3 linked regions of the Homo sapiens genome follow. The protein of the gene in region 1 interacts with the protein of each later gene in a biochemical or structural test. Each region holds a gene or a part of one and is shown in the gene's direction. Other genes may lie near its edges. The genes, in order: IRAK1, IRAK4 and PPP3CB.

The links.
Region 2: of the proteins of IRAK1 (region 1) and IRAK4, one has a biochemical effect on the other in vitro, tested with the Homo sapiens proteins (2 studies listed by BioGRID).
Region 3: the proteins of IRAK1 (region 1) and PPP3CB form a complex in vitro, tested with the Homo sapiens proteins (one study listed by BioGRID).

The regions. Positions count from the first base shown.
Region 1 is NC_000023.11:154,013,410-154,017,009, reverse strand, and holds part of IRAK1 (interleukin-1 receptor-associated kinase 1), read left to right. Parts: coding exon 1-61; intron 62-365; coding exon 366-573; intron 574-912; coding exon 913-978; intron 979-2,731; coding exon 2,732-2,968; intron 2,969-3,576; coding exon 3,577-3,600.
Region 2 is NC_000012.12:43,765,408-43,769,059, forward strand, and holds part of IRAK4 (interleukin-1 receptor-associated kinase 4), read left to right. Parts: intron 1-2,695; 5' UTR 2,696-2,704; coding exon 2,705-2,865; intron 2,866-3,652.
Region 3 is NC_000010.11:73,471,909-73,475,560, reverse strand, and holds part of PPP3CB (serine/threonine-protein phosphatase 2B catalytic subunit beta isoform), read left to right. Parts: intron 1-530; coding exon 531-642; intron 643-3,652. UniProt on the Homo sapiens protein: Calcium-dependent, calmodulin-stimulated protein phosphatase which plays an essential role in the transduction of intracellular Ca(2+)-mediated signals.

The DNA.
Region 1 (3,600 bases):
CCCGGGCAATTCAGTTTCTACATCAGGACAGCCCCAGCCTCATCCATGGAGACATCAAGAGGTGAGGAGGGGCCCTTGAGAACTGCCGGGGCAGGGCCTGCAGCAAGGGGGGCCCCGCGTCCTATCAATGTGGGGATCAGGCATGGCCTGGGACCTCAACACCCCGGCATCGCACAGGTGTGGGAACGGGCCAAGGATGGGCCCTACTGATGAGCAGAGGCCCCCAGGCAGCTGGAGCGCTCAGGGCAGTGCCAGCGCTTTCTGTGGGCAAGGCACCGGGCTGGCAGCCTCGAGTCCAGCCTTATCTAAGCCGGGCAGGTGTAGGAGCTAGGACCGGGCTGACGCCACTGTCTTCTCTCCCCAAGTTCCAACGTCCTTCTGGATGAGAGGCTGACACCCAAGCTGGGAGACTTTGGCCTGGCCCGGTTCAGCCGCTTTGCCGGGTCCAGCCCCAGCCAGAGCAGCATGGTGGCCCGGACACAGACAGTGCGGGGCACCCTGGCCTACCTGCCCGAGGAGTACATCAAGACGGGAAGGCTGGCTGTGGACACGGACACCTTCAGCTTTGGGGTGGTGAGCCACTGACCCCTCTGCTGGCTCAGAGGAGGAGAAGCCACAGGCAGGCAGAGGTGGGGGCTGCAGAGTGCACTGCGGGCCAGGGGCCATCTGCCAAGACCCCAGGAGGCTGCAGCTCCAGGGTCCCCCTCCCTCCGAGGCCCTCCTCCTCACCCTGCACCTAACTGTGTGTTTGTAATTTGTCTTCAAGTGGGCTCTCCGAGTTGCCCGAGCTTCAGTCCCATAACATCTGGCTCTGCCTTTGTCCACACCCTTGTCAGGCCCAATCCATGTCCACACCAGAGGCCTCTTCCCTGCCAAGGCCACTGCCATGCTCTCCCTCTTCCCTCTCTCCAGGTAGTGCTAGAGACCTTGGCTGGTCAGAGGGCTGTGAAGACGCACGGTGCCAGGACCAAGTATCTGGTGAGCCCCTTGAGGCAGGGCCAGGAGGGACACACAGCTGCTGGCAGCCAGCAGGCACAGCCCCAGTGGCGGGGATAACTGGGGCGCAGTGCCCATGGATGCCTCTGCTGCCACAGTGGCCTCATTTTTGAAAGTAGGCAGGGCTCCAAACAACTTCGTTTACCTTGCCGAGGACAAACCTGTCTGTCCTGCAGACACTATGGGCCTTGTACAGACCCCACCTGGGCTGGGGGCAGGGGGAAGGGCGGTCCCAGGGCACTGAGACCCAAGCTGCAGTGGAACTCAGAGGACTCTGGCCGGAGAAAGGCGGTGGTAGAGAAGAAGCAGGCCCCGAGGAACCTCCTGGGCCCCAGCAGGCTGCAGCTGAGCTCTCCGCACCGTGCAGGGCAGCCTGAGCTGCCTCACGGTCTTACTCCACTCAGTCTGCCTCACCGTGGACTGTGGTGGGGCCAGGAGACTAGAGACCTGGGTTTTAGCCCCAGCCTGACAGTGGCCTTCCAGCAAATTCCTGCTCCCCTGTGGGCCTGTTTTCCCATATGCAAAACAGACTTCACAGAATGTGCTCAGCCAGTAATTGCTTCACTGCTTCTCCTCTTGTTTGGGGCGGTTCCTGTGTGCTGTGGGGTCTCCGTCAGGATTCAGCCCCGCTGAGAACCCAGGAGCCGGGCTTGAGCCCTCCTTCCTTTCCCTTCCCCGTCCGTCCATCCATGCATCCTGCTGAAGAAGCGCACCAGGCTCCTTGGGGGTCCTTGGACTTCCCCACTTGCTCCCCACCCTGCAGCCAAAGTGCTCTTTTCAAAGGCCCCTTTGCCTTTTCTCTGCTCTTGGGGTGAAGGCCCAGTCCCTTATGTGGTTGACCCCCCAACGCCCCAGGTCCCTGGGACTCGGGGCGCTCCCTGCTGCCTGCTTCACAGCCTTAGTATGTGCCGTTCGCTCTGCGAGAAAAGCCACCGCCCACCCAGGTGGTTCCTCCTGGTCTGTCTGATTTCAGAACTGGAGATGGCCTCCGGTCCTGTTTCCACCCTGGGGGCGCCTCTCTGCGGGGCGCCTCTCTCTCTGGGGTACCTCTTTGTCTGTGGGGCACCTCTCTGTGGGGCGCTTTCCTTCTCGGCTCTGCCCTCTCAGGCTACTTCCTGCCTTCAGACCCCAGCTCCATGGGGCTCTCCCCCACCAGGAAGTCAGCTCTGTCAAACCGGGTCCCAGGGTTCTGTTTGTTCCTGTATCCCTAGGGCCCAGAGCACCACTGGCCCACAGTAGGTGTTTAATAAATCTCTAGAAGCTACTCGGGAATCTGAGGCAGGAGGATCGCTTGAGCCTGGGAGTTGGAGACCAGCCTGGGCAACATAGCAAGATAGGCATGGTGGTACACACCTGTAATCCCAGCTGCTCGGGAGGCCGAGGTGGGAGGATCACGAGCCTGGGAGGTTGAGGCTGCACTGAGCCATGATTGCACCACTGCACTCCAGCCTGGGTGACAGAATGAGTCCCTGTCTCAGAAAAAAAGTAAGTTGTAGAAAGACCAAGAGCTGTGGCACAGTGTCTCACACCTGTAACACCAGCACTTTGGGAGGCTGAGGCGGGAGGATCACTTGAGCCTACTTGGAGACCAGCCAGGCCAACAAAGCGAGACCCCATCTCTTTTTTTTTTTTTTTTTTTTTTATCAAAACCCATACGATTGAGTGACAAGGACCTGAGGACTGCAGCTGCAGGTGTGGCCACCTGGTAGCCATACTGACAGTATTTATCCCACAGAAAGACCTGGTGGAAGAGGAGGCTGAGGAGGCTGGAGTGGCTTTGAGAAGCACCCAGAGCACACTGCAAGCAGGTCTGGCTGCAGATGCCTGGGCTGCTCCCATCGCCATGCAGATCTACAAGAAGCACCTGGACCCCAGGCCCGGGCCCTGCCCACCTGAGCTGGGCCTGGGCCTGGGCCAGCTGGCCTGCTGCTGCCTGCACCGCCGGGCCAAAAGGAGGCCTCCTATGACCCAGGTAGCCAGCTGCGCACTGGGACGGGGTGGCCAGATAGAAAGCCCGCATTCCAGGCCTTGCTCTGTAGTGACCCCATCTCAGCACCTGCTAGGTCTCTCTGGAGTCTCCACACATTTCTTGCTTGCCCTTTGGTTCTGTTTGGGGCAGCGCCCCTCTGAACTGAGGGGCCCCGGGCAGTCCTGCTTTGCGGAGCCCAGCTCCGACCCCCTTCACATAGAGAGAAGGAAAGAGCTGCTGCCGCGCCCCCTGCTGGGCGCACTGCACTACTGCATCTGCCTTTTTCTGTCCCCTCCCTAGTACCCCACCTCTTCTCCTCTGGTGACAGTTGAAAATGGAGAGGCCCCGTTTGAGGGCAGCGGGGCAGTGAGATTCATTTTGTAGAAAAGAACGAGGCCATTCTCAGTCCTTGCTTTTGGCAGCCGCGCTTCTCAGCACTCCCTGTGATGGGAACAGAGGGGCGAGGGGCAGAGCGTTCCCAGCTGCAGGGTATGTCATTTTAGAGCCCTGGGGCAGGTCACGGACGGCCTGGAGCAGCCCTGTGGTTTGCCCACGGGGTGACCGGCCAGGGCTGCCATCTCACCCTGAGAGTCCCTCTTTTCCACTTGCAGGTGTACGAGAGGCTAGAGAAGCTG
Region 2 (3,652 bases), on another chromosome or scaffold:
TGGGGGCATTGTCCCCATAAATAAAGCATCAGTGATTTCACCATTCTTCCAACCAACCTCCACCATAAATGTGGTGTTTGTTCTTGCTTTAGTTTTAGCAGAATTCATGTTGCTGTGGTAGAGGTTCTTTTCAAACTGTCTTATTCTTCTCAGTGTCTCAACTAGATCCTGTTTAGACATGAATGATAAGTTAGTATGAGTTTATTTTGGAAATACATTTTGCAAAAAAAAAAAAATTGAAATCCATGCATGGTTTTTGCACGATATGCATTTTCCATGAACTCTTTGAAAACCCCTTATATATGAGAATACTTACATAATGAGCATTCTTTGCTGAAACCTCTCTCCTAAGCTCCAGACCACATATATAAGTACTTGGTATGAAGGCTCCTAGATAGTGCCAAAGGTAGATATTTCACATTTAACATGAGCCAAAAAAAAAAAAAAAACTTCATTCTATCTCCCTTTCTTCTAATCGCTCATCTCTAGTGAAATTGTTTTGATTTGGCCTCCTAAATGTTTTGACGTTTTACCTCTCCATTCCCCTACCCTATACTTTTTCCAAGCTCTCCTTTCTGCTCACCTGGATTATTGCAGAAGTTTTCAAACTAATTTTCTTGCCTCAATATACATCCCTTTGATTTTTATCCAGAGGAATCCACTTAACCATATAAGATTATTTAACATCCCTCCTAAAAATCCTAAAGTGGCTCTCCTGTAACTTTTAGTTTATAAGTTCAAACTCTTTGTCTTAGCACATGAGGTACATGATGATCTGGCCCTGCTACCTTTCCACCCTCATCTCTTCTCACTTAATCACAGGCATCCTGTGGTCCAGCCATAGCAAGCTCTTTGCCTGAGACACACATGCTCTTACCTTTTCCCATGCTATTCCCTCTGCCTGGAATTTTCTTTTGGGCTTATCCTCATTCCCTTTCATTCATCCTTCCAACCTCCTACTCCAACCAAATCTGTCTTGATATCCCTATTCCAGACTGCCTCTGCTTGATGCCCCTTTTCTGGGCCCCATAACATTCTTGCAGCATTTATCACTCCCTGTCACTGTTTGTATCCCCTGGTATACTGAACAGCTTGGAAACAAAGATTTTCTCTTCTCTGTGCTCCCACTTGTTAGTACAAAGACTGACATAAATATTTTCTGAATGTATTCATGAATGAAAGGAAAGGAATGGTCTTTCTGAAATAGAGAATGGCATGAACAATGCATTGTGTTATAAAAGCAGAGTTGTATGGCATGACTTTTGGAGTCAGACATAATTGTAAGTCCTGGATCTCTCACTTACCACCTTTGTAAAATAGAGATGATAAAACTGTACTGGGAAATAATTTAGTTGTTCCAAAAGTAAATACTGAACAATACCATTATCTACAGTATGCAAGTCACTAGGTGTATATTCATGAATAAAATTAGCATGGTCCTGAACTCATGGATCTTAAAATCGAATATGGGAGACAGTAAACAGGTAAACAAATAAGTATATGATTACAAATACATTGTGCAGTGATGAAAGATAATTAGGTGAAGGGCAGCTAGACCTATTTAGATGTGGTCAAAGAAGTCCAAAGAGAAGAAGTGAATACTAACATAGAAGCCTCTGATACAGAGAAGCTTTTCGCTTTTTACTCTTTTTGATAGTTTTAGAATGTTGTTCCATATGAACACATTATTTACTCTAAAATTGTATTTTTAAAATATATATAGGGAAGCAAAAATAATTGACAGAAGAATATCTGAGTCTATTTGTCTTAATTGGAAGGAAAGATCATTTCCTATTGAGAATGAGGGACACGCAGAACAAATAAAATCCACATAGAAAGAAGTAAAGGTATGAAATAGTCACTAAGGACTATGAGAGAAGACAAGTGGAAGGATTAACGGCAGTGTTGAAGGCCCTGTGGAAAGGGGGTTACCATAAATTTGTATTCACATCAGCAACCCTGGTGTACAAGTAAAGTTGTTAGATTTATCCCTGGCTGCAGCTCTCCAGGATGGAGTAGCAGAAGTAAAGGGGGATTGCAGAAATAAAGATTCTGTCTAGAGAGTAGTTGAAGTGGTGAAGCACAGGTTTTGGCGTAGTAGCAAATGAATTGTGGTCAGGCAGATCTCATGGACTCAAAAAATGTGCAGAGGTCAAGGAAGAGCAAAGTATGTGAAAAGTGGGTGGGTGGACCATATCTGTTAATGCTACACAAATCATTTCAGTACGTTTTTTTTTTTTACTTCTACCAAAGAATGTTGCATAAATTTTAATTGTAAATAAGTACTAATTGAGAAACATAAATTGAAAGGTAAATGTTTTTATTAATAGATTTGATTTCTGAATATGCTAATTCTGATAGTTTGTTGATATTACTCTTAAGAATTTTTCTGGTAAGTTTTTTGCCCCTTTCTATAAATTTTACTAGGAAAATATCAGTGTCAGAAAAAAGTCCTCCGATTTTTATTGCTATTAATGGGTGGAAAAAGGAAGCAAACCCAGAGGATAATTGGACAAATGAATTACAATTTTAATTTCATCTTAGGATATCAATGACTTGACTTTGGAATGTTTCTTTATTATGGTATAATCAGTTGCTGACATTTCATATGATATAGCAAAGTGTGATATATAAGCTTACAGATGTCATCTCTAAAAGTACTGTAAAATTTTAATGAGATTTTTCCATATTTTAGGAATAGAAGATGAACAAACCCATAACACCATCAACATATGTGCGCTGCCTCAATGTTGGACTAATTAGGAAGCTGTCAGATTTTATTGATCCTCAAGAAGGATGGAAGAAGTTAGCTGTAGCTATTAAAAAACCATCTGGTGATGATAGATACAATCAGTTTCACATAAGGTAACAGATAAAATTCTTTGTATTTTTAAATTCTTACATCACAATATGGAATGATTAATTGGTATAAGTACTGTCTAATGTGGCAGTTTAGAAAGTAAACCTCTCCACTATGGAGGAGACATTGGTAGTAGGTAACCTCTTTTTGATTGTTCCTTTTGCAGTTTTGTCTTCTTTGTCCCATATGTCAATAGGGCTAATACTGTGATCTCTCAAATAAGTTTTTTGGGTTAGAATCAAGATTCCCACCTTTGCTGTGGTTCCCTGTTTGGCAAGCCAAGTGAAGTTCACTCTGCCTCACACTTCTCATTTCCAGATTGAAGGAAAATAAGAATGTTACAAGAATGTCTGGTAAAAATCTAGAGCTTAAATTTCAAAGTGTGTGAATCTCTAACACACTCTAACAATGTATTTTGGGACTTTTTCAATTTGACGTTTTAAAGTTGTTGCTTACAAGTGTACACTTCTGTGCACAGAATTCTTAAATCTTAGCTAGGATTTCTCAGTGCTGTCTTCAGATAATTTCAATTTTTCCTTTTTACTCATCTCTGCTCAATTTAGTGTAAAATATGCATGCATATTTTATTTTTGTCAGTCATTGCAGTTAAAACCTATGTCAAAATGTTTCTTTGGTAGCAAAAGGAAAAGAAGACTATTTGTTATTTTCAGCATTAATCTGGGAAAGAACCTAAAAGACTTGGCTCCCTTGCAGGAAATATTTCCTCATAAGAAGAGCGAACATGTTAAATTACTTGAAAGAAGCTTAAGTTTAAACTGTGTTAAGCCAATG
Region 3 (3,652 bases), on another chromosome or scaffold:
AGAATCCTATCTCCATCACTTAGAAGTTTTGTGGTTTTGGACAAGTTACTTGAGATCTTTGCTTCAGTTTCTCATTTGTAAAATAAAGATGATATTACATACTTCATAGTGTTGTTTGAGGAATAAATTAGGGGAATTATATAGTGCTTCACATATTGTAAGTACTTAATAAATGTTAGCTGCTGTTATTTTGACAGTATTATTTACTAATACGCATCTGTAGACCAGTGTGCTAATTGTTTTTATATTGGGCAGTCTGTAAATCCAAAGTAATTAAATAGATTGTTTGACTCATTCATTCAACAAATATTTATTGCTCTTCTCCTATTTGCTAGGTACTCTTCTGGGAGTGGAGAATCAAAAGTGAATAAGATGACAAAATCTGTGATTTTGTGGTGCTTATATTTTAGTAAGGGACAAAGAAAGATAATAGAGGATGGTAAGGGTAGTAGAGGAAAAGGAGCAAAGATCAAGCAGCTTCATTAAACAAAAGTACAAGATAAATTCACTAGAAAAATTTTCTTTTGCAGTGTGTCTTATATTTATGGGTTCTGAAGATTCTATACCCAAGCACATTATTTCTTCTGAGAGGCAACCATGAATGCAGACACCTTACTGAATATTTTACCTTTAAGCAGGAATGTGAGTACTGCCAGAAGAAATGTTTTCACTTCCTCAGTATTCTTTTGGACTTAAGTGGGTAGTAAGAGTTTTGAAGACTTTACAGTGCAACATGTAAGGACAGATTTCATGTCCACACATAAAGCTTTGAGGAAAGTTGTCGAGCACTCTCTGGTGTTTAATGGTATTAAGAAGTTTTTGGTGGGGCATGGTGGTTCACGCCTGTAATCCCAGCACTTTGGGAGGCCCAGGCAGGGGGATTGCCTGAGCTCAGGAGTTGGAGACCAGCCTGGCCAACATGGTGAAACCCCATCTCCACCAAAAATACAAAAAAAAAAAATTAGCTGGGTGTGGCGGCACACTCTTGTAGTCCCAGCTGCTCAGGAGGCTGAGGTGGGAGGATCGCTTGAGCCTGGGAATCGGAGGTCATAGTGAGCTGAGATCATGCCACTGCACGGACAATTGCCTGGGCAATAGAGTCAGACCCTGTCTCAAAAAAAAAAATTTTTTTTCATTTCAGAATTTCTTATTATGTTTAACTTTTACAAACATACTTAGAGTTTTATATATAAGTTTTAATGTTACAATTAATTTTTCTAAGCCAGGCACGGTAGCTCACGCTTGTAATCCCAGCACTTTGGGAGGCCGAGGCGGGTGGATCACCTGAGGTCAGGAGTTCAAGACCAGCCTGGCCAACACGGCAAAACCCCATCTCCTAAAAATACAAAAATTAGCCAGGCGTGGTGACATGTGCCTGTAATCCCAGGTACTCAGGAGGCTGAGGCAGGAGAATCACTTGAACCTGGGAGGCGGAGGTTGCAGTGAGCCGAGATCGCGCCATTGTACTCCAGCCTGGGCAACAAGAGCGAAACTCTGTCTCAGGAAAAAAAAATGTATATATTTTTTCTAACAGGAAAAAATAAAAACCAAAAGAAAAAAATGTTATTTTGCATTGGAGATTTTTGTCCTTCAATCTTGAGGCATTCCTGTGAGGAATCCTAACAAATTGTTTATCCTGTTACCATTGCAGATCATTTCAATCATGCTATTAATGATTGAAATTCTTCTTAAAATTTTTTTGTTTTTTTAAATATCATTGTTTTAAGACTAGTCAGGTACAGTTGGTGAAATTCTTAACCTGCAATGTTTATCCCTTTTCTCTCTCAAATTATTATAGCAATGGTAATCTAATACCTGTAAGTAACCATATGTTACAGAACAAGATTAGGCCTTTTTCACACCTCAAACCTTTGTGCTTTTTTATTATTTTTGTTATTTTTATTTTTTTTTTGAGACAGTCTCGCTCTGTCGCCCTGGCTGGAGTGCAGTGGTACAATCTCGGCTCACAGCAACCTCCTCCCGGGTTCAAGTATTCTCCTGCCTTAGCCTCCCAAGTAGCTGAAATTACAGGCATGCGCCACCACGTCCTGCTAATTTTTGTATTTTTGGTAGAGGCGGTGTTTCACCATGTTGGCCAGGCTGGTCTCTTAACTCCTGACCTCAAGTAATCCACCTGCCTCGTCCTCCCAAAGTGCTGGGATTACAGGTGTGAACCACCGCATCTGGCCTGCCTTTGTGCTTTTTAAGTTAATATTTATGACTGTATTAAGTAGAGTTAAATTCTAAAAGCAGAAATAATTTCAACGTTTTGAGACTCAAAACATGATCCAATAAAGGTCATACTAAGTAGAGACTTGCAGCAACAGGAGAAAAATACAGTGATGGGTAGTGGCAGAAGTGGCATACTCTTATAACTTCAAGGATCAGGCAGTTAACCTAAATGAGTAAGATAAGACCTGGAAAGTGCATGCTTGACCTAAAAGCAGTCAAATTAGAATTTTTATTAAACCACAGTGCTAGAAAACAGAGTCGTTAGCAGACTGCCAGTGTAGAATCTCTGGTTGCTGGATATATATATAGTTTTTTTAATATTTGAATATTACAGTATTAAAACAGGAAATAGGAACTAAGTTCTTTTTCTTTGCCTAGATAAATAACAAACCACCTACCAAAATCTCATCAAAACCAAAATAGGAATTTAAAGTTGTAAAGGAGCAAATGAAAGTGCATGATATCTCTCTAAAAGTAAATGATAGTTTGATTTGGTAGAGTTTTGTCTTTCTTGTGTTTCTATATTGGCTTCCTGCTTCACTGCCCATTTTAAAGTATTCATTGTAGGCAAGAGGAACCCCTCAGCTTTTCTGACATGAGCATGCTATTATCTTTTATTTTTCAGAAAAAATGGATGAACCTTGAATTTTGTTGTGATGATGTAGTCATCTTGCCTGTAATAAGAATAAAGTAGTCATTGACTCTTAGAATAAAATAAAGCAAGTATTAAAATGATTTTAACCTCAAGTACAGTTCTAATTTTGCCTTATTTGGCCGATAAAGGTGAAGGGTTGAGCTGTTTTTAAGAGATTTCTTTCTTTTTTTTTTTTTTTTGAGACAGAGTCTTGCTCTGTCGCCCAGGCTGGAGTGCAAGTGGCACGATCTCGGCCCACTGCAGCCTCCACCTCCTGGGTTCAAGTGATTCTTGTTCCTCACCCATTGAGTCTCTGGGATTACAGGTGCACACCAGCATGCCTGGCTAATTTTTGTATTTTTAGTAGAGACAGTGTTCTGCCATGTTGGCCAGACTGGTCTCAAACTCCTGGCCTCAAGCGATCTGCCTGCTTTGGCCTGTCAAAGTGCTGGGATTACAGGCGTGAGCCACCGTGCCTGGCCTGTTTTTAGAGATTTGACTGACTTATTTTTAACAATACGTGATGACTTTTCTGTCATCCAAAATAATTTTAGAGAGCAAATATTTTGCTTCATAAGACATAACATCATCGAGAATAATTTTAGAGAGAGCAAATATTTTGTCTTCATAAGACAGATAACTTTGCATATTTTTGTTGATTCTTATAGGGGAAGATGCTTTCCTTAAAAAAATTGTGTGCAGTAAGATTTATTCTCTGTGGTATTTACTTCTGTGACTTTTGACACTGCATAGAGTTGCCCACTACCACTATCATGATACAGAAAA